Linked DNA regions of Homo sapiens. The protein of the gene in region 1 interacts with the protein of each later gene in a pairwise test. Each region holds a gene or a part of one and is shown on either strand. Other genes may lie near its edges.

What was found.
Region 2: the proteins of ARX (region 1) and NELL2 interact in a two-hybrid assay, tested with the Homo sapiens proteins (one large-scale study listed by BioGRID and IntAct).

The regions. Positions count from the first base shown.
Region 1 is NC_000023.11:25,013,166-25,017,313, reverse strand, and holds the start of ARX (homeobox protein ARX), read left to right. Parts: upstream 1-1,348; 5' UTR 1,349-1,576; coding exon 1,577-1,772; intron 1,773-3,515; coding exon 3,516-4,148. UniProt on the Homo sapiens protein: Transcription factor. Binds to specific sequence motif 5'-TAATTA-3' in regulatory elements of target genes, such as histone demethylase KDM5C. Positively modulates transcription of KDM5C.
Region 2 is NC_000012.12:44,778,816-44,782,315, reverse strand, and holds part of NELL2 (protein kinase C-binding protein NELL2 isoform b precursor), read left to right. Parts: intron 1-2,293; coding exon 2,294-2,467; intron 2,468-2,556; coding exon 2,557-2,653; intron 2,654-3,500. UniProt on the Homo sapiens protein: Plays multiple roles in neural tissues, regulates neuronal proliferation, survival, differentiation, polarization, as well as axon guidance and synaptic functions.

The DNA of each region.
Region 1 (4,148 bases):
TGTTTATGGCTGAAAAAAAAAAATCCCAGTTATGCATCCTTGTATTTTTAAATACTGACTGTAAGTGATTCAAGTATAATCCTTTGTAAAATGCTTTTCTCTTTGACACATTGAAGGGAGTTGAGAGAGGAAAACCCGGCGTGGATTCCCCCTCCCTGGCCCCTCTCTCACCCACCACCTTCGCCCCAATTCTGCCAGCGTTGGGGCCCCTGGAAATCCCTGGGAACCTGCACCCAGGCAGGGAAGGCGTCCGTGCTGGCCCAGGCTCGACCCAACATCAGTTGGAGTTGGGTTTTAGTTCTCGGCGCTGGAAACTGTTTGGGAAGAAAGGCGCTCTCTCTAAGGTTCACTCTCTCACCTTTGCTCAAGGGAGCCAGGTCATGAGAATTCAGAATTTTAGACGCTTAGATTTGGCTGCAGCCGAATTTGGGTTCCTTCCACCCTGGAGAGGTCAGGGATCCCTGAGGGTTCTGCTCCCTAGCTGCGATTGGAAGGTGAACAGCCTCAGGGTGAAGGCCTAACAGATACGAATTTGTGGGGGAAAGAGGGAAGAGAGTCCAGGGAGAAAGAGGAGGCCCCCAGACTCGTCCCCAGTCGCCCCTCCTCGCTGCTGATACTCGCCTGTCCCTTCCCACCCAGTAAATGCTCTAGGGAAGGCCGCGCGCCTATGGCAGAGCTTTGTCTGTAAGGAGGCTTTTTCCCATTCCAGAGTTTAAAACGGAGAGGAGAGCGGTTGGGGGACGCTACAAACAAGAGAGACACAGTCGGGCTCAGGGTGAAGATAGACAGCGCAATGCCTTGGGCCGCAAGAGAAAAGCGAACTCCCAGACGGCAGATGTTTGCTTGGGGCGGTCACCCTGGCCCCCCGACGCCCGTCCGGCCTAGAGAGGACGGCAATTGAGCGCCAGGGAGGTCAAGGCGGTGTCCTGGGAGCCCAATATCGGCTTTGAAAAGTGCCGAGTGAGTCTGAACGTGAGCCTCGAGGCCTCGCCTCCAGGGAGCGAGGTCCTCGGGTTGGTGGAAGGGGCGCACGCCACCCAGATGGCATTCACAGGCCTGGCATCCCAATAAGCTAGAACTTCGGCCAACACTAAAGGGTCAAAGGAGGAGCTGCAGGAAGAGGATAGCGGACTTAGAAAATTGGTAACTTAAAAAAAGAAAGAAAGAAAAGGAAAATTGGCTCTGGTGCGTGCCCGCTGCCCCCACCCCCGCCTGCCCCTCTGGAATCCAGTCCGGGCTTTGCGCCGCGCCCACAGGCCGACGCAGCCCGGCCTCTGGCGAGAGCCAATCAGAGGGCGCCTCTCAGCACGTGGAGGAGAGAGACTCCAGAGCTCAGCGCCCGCTGCTCACTACACTTGTTACCGCTTGTCCTGAGCGCGGAGAGGGCGAGCTCGGGCCGCGGGCAGGGCGGGAGCCGGCAGCCGGCAACCAAGGGAGGCAGAAAGGCACAAAGATCGCAATAATATCCGTTATAACCCGCTATCTAACCCCACCCCCAACACACACCCATCCATCCCACCCTCCGGGAGAGGCAGCCGGCGATCCGCTCTCTGCGCCCTGGGAAAAAGCCCCAGCCATGAGCAATCAGTACCAGGAGGAGGGCTGCTCCGAGAGGCCCGAGTGCAAAAGTAAATCTCCAACTTTGCTCTCCTCCTACTGCATCGACAGCATCCTGGGCCGGAGGAGCCCGTGCAAAATGCGGTTGCTGGGAGCCGCGCAGAGCTTGCCTGCTCCGCTGACCAGCCGCGCCGACCCGGAAAAGGCCGTGCAAGGTAAGGATGCTCCCGTCAGGCACTTACTAAGGGCATTGGGCCCTGATTTGGATGTTTGGTGTTCGGGGGCCAGTGGCCTGGAATTGTCAATTTGGAGAGGAAGGAAGGAGAGGGCATAACTCTGAGGCCTGCTGCCTCAAAGAGCGTTAAACATCTAGCCAGGGCTGTCTCTCCCTCCCTCCCTCCCTGCTTCCAGAAAAAGGCCCGTTTTCGCTTAGGGAGCCTTTAGCTTTTCGGTGTTGATCGTTAGGTTGTTTAAATGCCCCTTTTGGTGGCCTTGGGTGTGCTCTGAAGAGCGGCGACAGGTCAGAAACAGTAGATGGCCGGTGGACCCTTGTAGCACCAACTTGATGAAGACAAGAAGCCCAAAAGCTGGTGAATCGGGGTCTCCAGGCTGAGTGAGCCTTGGCCTTTCCTCTTTGGAAGATTTCTGTATATGCAATGTTTTGGTTTTATTTTTTTAATTGCAGATTACTTGTGACCTTTTAAACCCAAGCTTTGCAGAAAACATCTTCCTGGGATTCTCCAAATGCTCCTTAATGTATTTAAAATGTATGAAATGTGTGACTTCTGGATGCTAATTTTTTCTCTGCTATTTTATTTTTTAAAATAGACGAGCTGTTTAAAATATTTTATTTTTTTCTGAAATTAAAAATTCCAGAACAAATGTCCTTTTACCCCGAACCTGTTATCCTCAAGTTTCGCCTCGAGCTTGCTGCAGAGGTGTCGCAGGGAAAGGAAAGAACTGTTGGTTTCTTTTAAAATCCAAAAACCAGCGGTCCGGCCATAGCGCAATTTGGATGGCAGGAGCAGACGGTTGAGAAGGGGGCATTTAAATAAAACTGACTTTTTTCTTTTCTTTTTTTAGCCTGCAGTGGCACCTATGCCAGGCGCTTCCTCAAAAGGAAGGAGCGGCCTGCGCCTGCTGCACTCCCACTCCCTCTCTGCCCCAGACCTTTCCCAGAACATTTTTGCCAGGATGATTTTTCTTTGCCTTTTTGTGCAAGAAGCCCCCCCACCCTCTCCCGCTGTGGGCTGTTGGGGCGCGGCCTGCACTTGGGGCCACAGGGCCGCTTTCCCCCACCCCGCCCCGCAGCGGTCGCCTTCAGGGCTGCACCCCTCTTGCCAACCCTTGCCCTCATGGTGGAGCAGCGGGCAGAGGTCATGCGCAAAGTTTTCAGGATAGTGGTGATTTTCTTTTAAAGTTGTAGAATGTTTTCGGATTTTCCTCTGCCCCGACGTGGGAAGGGAAATAAAAATGAGAGAGTAGGAAAGGGGAAAGAGAAAGGAATAAAGAAGAAAGAAGGAGAGAGGGGAGAGAAAGCCTGCAAAAAGAGAAAGAAAGGGGGAGAGAAGGAGAAAGAGAGGTGAGGAAAAGAAGGGAGGGGGAGAAAGAAAAAGAAAAAAGGTAAGGAGAGAAAAGGAAGGGAGAGAGGGGCAAGAGGAATAGATAAGGGAAGGAAGATAGGAAATAAAAGGGGGAGAGTGAGAGAGGGAACGGAAAGAAGGGAGAGGAAAGGGGAAAAAAGAAGGAACCCAGAGAAAGGGAGAAGGAGAGAAAGAAAGAAAAAGAAAAAGCAAGAAAAGTGGAGAAAGAGGCCAAGGCGTCGAAGTCTGGTGGTGCGCGGTCCCCGCACGCCTGGGCCTAGGCACTGGGGGAGCAACTGCGGGCGGGCCCCGGCAGCAGCCCTGGCTGGGACTCCCCGGCCGGCCGGCTGGCTGATAGCTCTCCCTTGCCCGCAGGCTCCCCTAAGAGCAGCAGCGCCCCGTTCGAGGCCGAGCTGCACCTGCCGCCCAAGCTGCGGCGCCTGTACGGCCCGGGCGGGGGCCGCCTCCTTCAGGGTGCGGCAGCGGCGGCGGCGGCGGCGGCGGCGGCGGCGGCAGCGGCCGCCACGGCCACGGCGGGTCCACGCGGGGAGGCCCCTCCGCCGCCACCGCCAACCGCGCGGCCCGGGGAACGGCCGGACGGCGCAGGGGCCGCCGCGGCAGCCGCGGCCGCGGCCGCCGCGGCCTGGGACACGCTCAAGATCAGCCAGGCGCCGCAGGTGAGCATCAGCCGCAGCAAGTCGTACCGCGAGAACGGGGCGCCCTTCGTGCCGCCGCCGCCCGCGCTGGACGAGCTGGGCGGCCCGGGGGGCGTCACGCACCCGGAGGAGCGCCTCGGCGTGGCCGGCGGCCCGGGCAGCGCCCCGGCTGCGGGTGGTGGCACCGGCACCGAGGACGACGAGGAGGAGCTGCTGGAGGACGAAGAAGATGAGGACGAGGAAGAGGAACTGCTGGAGGACGACGAGGAGGAGCTGCTGGAGGACGACGCCCGCGCGCTGCTCAAGGAGCCCCGGCGCTGTCCTGTGGCCGCCACTGGCGCCGTGGCCGCAG
Region 2 (3,500 bases), on another chromosome or scaffold:
ACTTGTTTTACAATTTCATTTTATCTGTATGTTTATGAGTGTGTCTCTTTGTATAGCTTTGTAAGTGGTTGCTGTAGGTATTCCATTATATATACATAACTTATAACTGATTGTTCGTATAGTCATTTTACCAGTTTGAGTGATGTATAGAAATTTTAGCTGTCTTTATGTTTCTTTACCCTCACTCATTTATAACATAAATTCTTTAAATATTGTTTAACATACATTTAGGACACAGACTCTTTTGCTTCAATTTTGAGCTGTTGCTTCAGTTGTCAAACATACTTTAGAAAAGAGGAGAAGGAAAGCTTATTGTATTTACCCATTTTTCTTTTTTACATACTATGTTCTTTCTACCTTCCTGATGTTCCAAAGCTTTTTATTTTATATTTTTCTTTCTGTTTAGAGGTCATTATTTTGCTGTTCTTTTAAAATAGGTCTTCTCATGATAAATTCTCTTAGTTTTCCTTTATCTGAGAATGTCTTGATTTCTCTTCATTCCTGAAGGATGTTTTTGCTGGGTATACAATTCTACGTGTACAGCTCTTTTTGCTTTTGTCACATGAAAAATATTTTACCACTTCTTTATGGCTCCCATGGTTTCTACTGAGAAACACACTGTCACTCTAATTTTTCCTTGTACTTAATGTGCAAGATTTTCTCTGTCTACTTTCAAATTTTTTCTTTGTTTTTAGTTTTCAGAAGATTAATTATGATATGGCTTGATATGAAGTTGAAAATTGTTTTGAGTTTATCTTGTTTAGGGTTTCCTTAGATTCTTGAATCTGTGAGTTTATATCTCTTGCCAAATTTGGGAGGTGTTCAGCCATTATTTCTTCAATATTGTTTTTTAAGCTCGCCTCCTTTCTCCTCTCTTTCTCGGATGCTAGTGATACAAATGTTAGATCTTTTGTTATAATCTCACAGCTCTTTAAGACTGTTCAACTTTTTTTTCAGTCTATCTTCTATTTGTCACATTGGATGCTTTTTTTTCTGTCTTCCAGATAACTGATTCTTTTCACAGTCACTTCCATTCTGCTGTTTAGCTTTATCCACTGAGCTTTCATTTCCATTATTGTATTTTTTTGGTTCTGAAGTTTCTATTTGGTTTTAAATTTTTTTTCCCATTTTTCTTTTTCTTTATTGAAACTTTCTATTTTTTTCATTTAAGTCTTTTCATAATTGTTTTTGTCAGTGCTGCTGTAAAATATTTGTTGGGTAATTCTAACATCCTTATCATTTTAGTCTTGATATCTGTTCTTTTTCTTTTTACAATCTGTTGGAGATTTCTTTGCTTCTTGGTATAATGAATGATTTTTTACTGAAACCTGGACATGTTTGTATCATGTTCTGAGACTTGAATCTTATTTAACCCGCCTGTTTTAGCCAGCTTTCTCTGACACTGCTTTGTCAGGGGAAGGGAGGGTGCCATCTTGTTACTGCCAGGTGGAGGTAGAAGTCTAGATTCCCCACTTGCCTTTGTTGACAGTTGAGGGGGAAGCTTCTTTTATTTCTGAGTTGGGGGAAGTTTCAGCTTCCTATATGGTTTCTGCTGGCACTGTGGCGGGGTGGTTTCATTACTGCTGGATGACTATAAAACTCCTGACTCCTTAGTAGGCTTCCTTTGATACTATCCCAGCGGGGAAAGGGAAGTGTGCTTCATTACTTCCAAGATGAGATGGAAGTCCAGGCTCCTCATTGTATGGTCTTCACTAGTGCTGTGGGGGGCCTCATTACTGCCTGGGAGGGTTAAAATTCTTGGCTCTAAACTTGGCCTTCTCTGACACTATTCTGGTGTTACATGCCTCATTTCTGCTTGAACAGGGTAGAAATATAAGCTTCTTACTTAGCTTTTGTTTGGCATGGTTTGGGATGGGGCCAGTTTTTTCTGTGATGTTTGACTGGAACAGAGAGATTATTATCTAGCAGTTTCTGTCTTGCTAGACTGATCCTTTCTTTGTTCTTCAGCTAGAGAAAGCAGGCTCATCTTGAGGATTTTTTAGGTCTACATTCATTGATATTTCCAGATTGAAGCCTTCTTTAGCTCCAAGTCCAGGATATATGACACAAAATGGAAACCCATTGAACTCACTACCATATTGTTCCTTGGATCCTGAATATCTTTTTTTCTCTATCTTCTAGATTCTTCTGTGTTTGTTTTGTATATGATGTCTAGTTGTACTTAGTGGGAGAACTAGGAAAAGTACATCTATTCCATCCCGTAGACAGAGATCACTTCAATCGTTTTTGAACTTTATTTTTAATGTGTCCCATGTGGCTCTTCTCTCTGCAGGTACCTGGAACTGGAAAGTAGTGGCCATCGGAATGAAGTCAGACTGCATTACCGCTCAGGCAGTCACCGCCCTCACACAGAAGTGTTTCCTTACATTTTGGCTGATGACAAGTGGCACAAGCTCTCCTTAGCCATCAGTGCTTCCCATTTGATTTTACACATTGACTGCAATAAGTAAGTGTAGTGTCCTCATTTTAGGAAATGGAAGATTCTAAGAAATGACTGTCTACTCACGTTCCTTCTTTGATGTTTCTTTTTTGCAGAATTTATGAAAGGGTAGTAGAAAAGCCCTCCACAGACTTGCCTCTAGGCACAACATTTTGGCTAGGACAGAGAAATAATGCGCATGGATATTTTAAGGTATCTTTTGGCAAAAGTCTGAGAATGAAATGTAAATGCTTTCTAATGAGTTTCAAAAAGTAGATTTTACTTTTTATGGTGTGAAACAAAATAATTTGATTTGTAAATTAGAAAATTTGTGTCTGTTTCATTTTTTTAAACAGTAATATTTTAGCCAGCAAACATTATTTTCTCTTCTTTTTTCAATGAGTTTAATTGTTAGATATTACAGAAATGATCACAAGGCTGCAATCAGGGCAGTTAACAGGTCATTCTTTGAATTAACCTTTCAAAGCAATAAAAATCTAAAATGTTAACATACAAATAAACTCTCCACCACTGAAATATAACCTTTGATGATACTTTTACAAAGATGTTAATAGCGGATTGAAAGCTTTTTAGTATATATTATTCATGGTCTCCTTGTACTGCAGAAAGTGAGAAAGGAATACACATATGTGCACAAATCTGTCAAAAGAGAAAGCAGTTATAATTTATATCTTTTCCTTTAATATGTACTTGGAGACAACACTTCATAGAATTTCTTCATTGGAGAGGCTCTAAGGGACATGTCATTTAACTTTCCATATTTTAAAGATGAAGAAATAAAGTCCAGAGAATTGCTTGACTACAAGCCCATAGTGCAATCATTTTCCCCCAGTGGCTATGACAGTCCCTACAACATGGAAGTGGCTCGATGAATGATTACCAAATCAAACAATGATAAGTGATAGTTCAACTCATAGATTTCAAGGTAGATCACATACCAGTGAATTTAATTGTTTTCTAAGCAAAGTTTATAATTCTATAAAGGTGTTTTGGGAACTTATTTAAGCATTGCCTGTTACCAGGAAACCAGATACTTGAA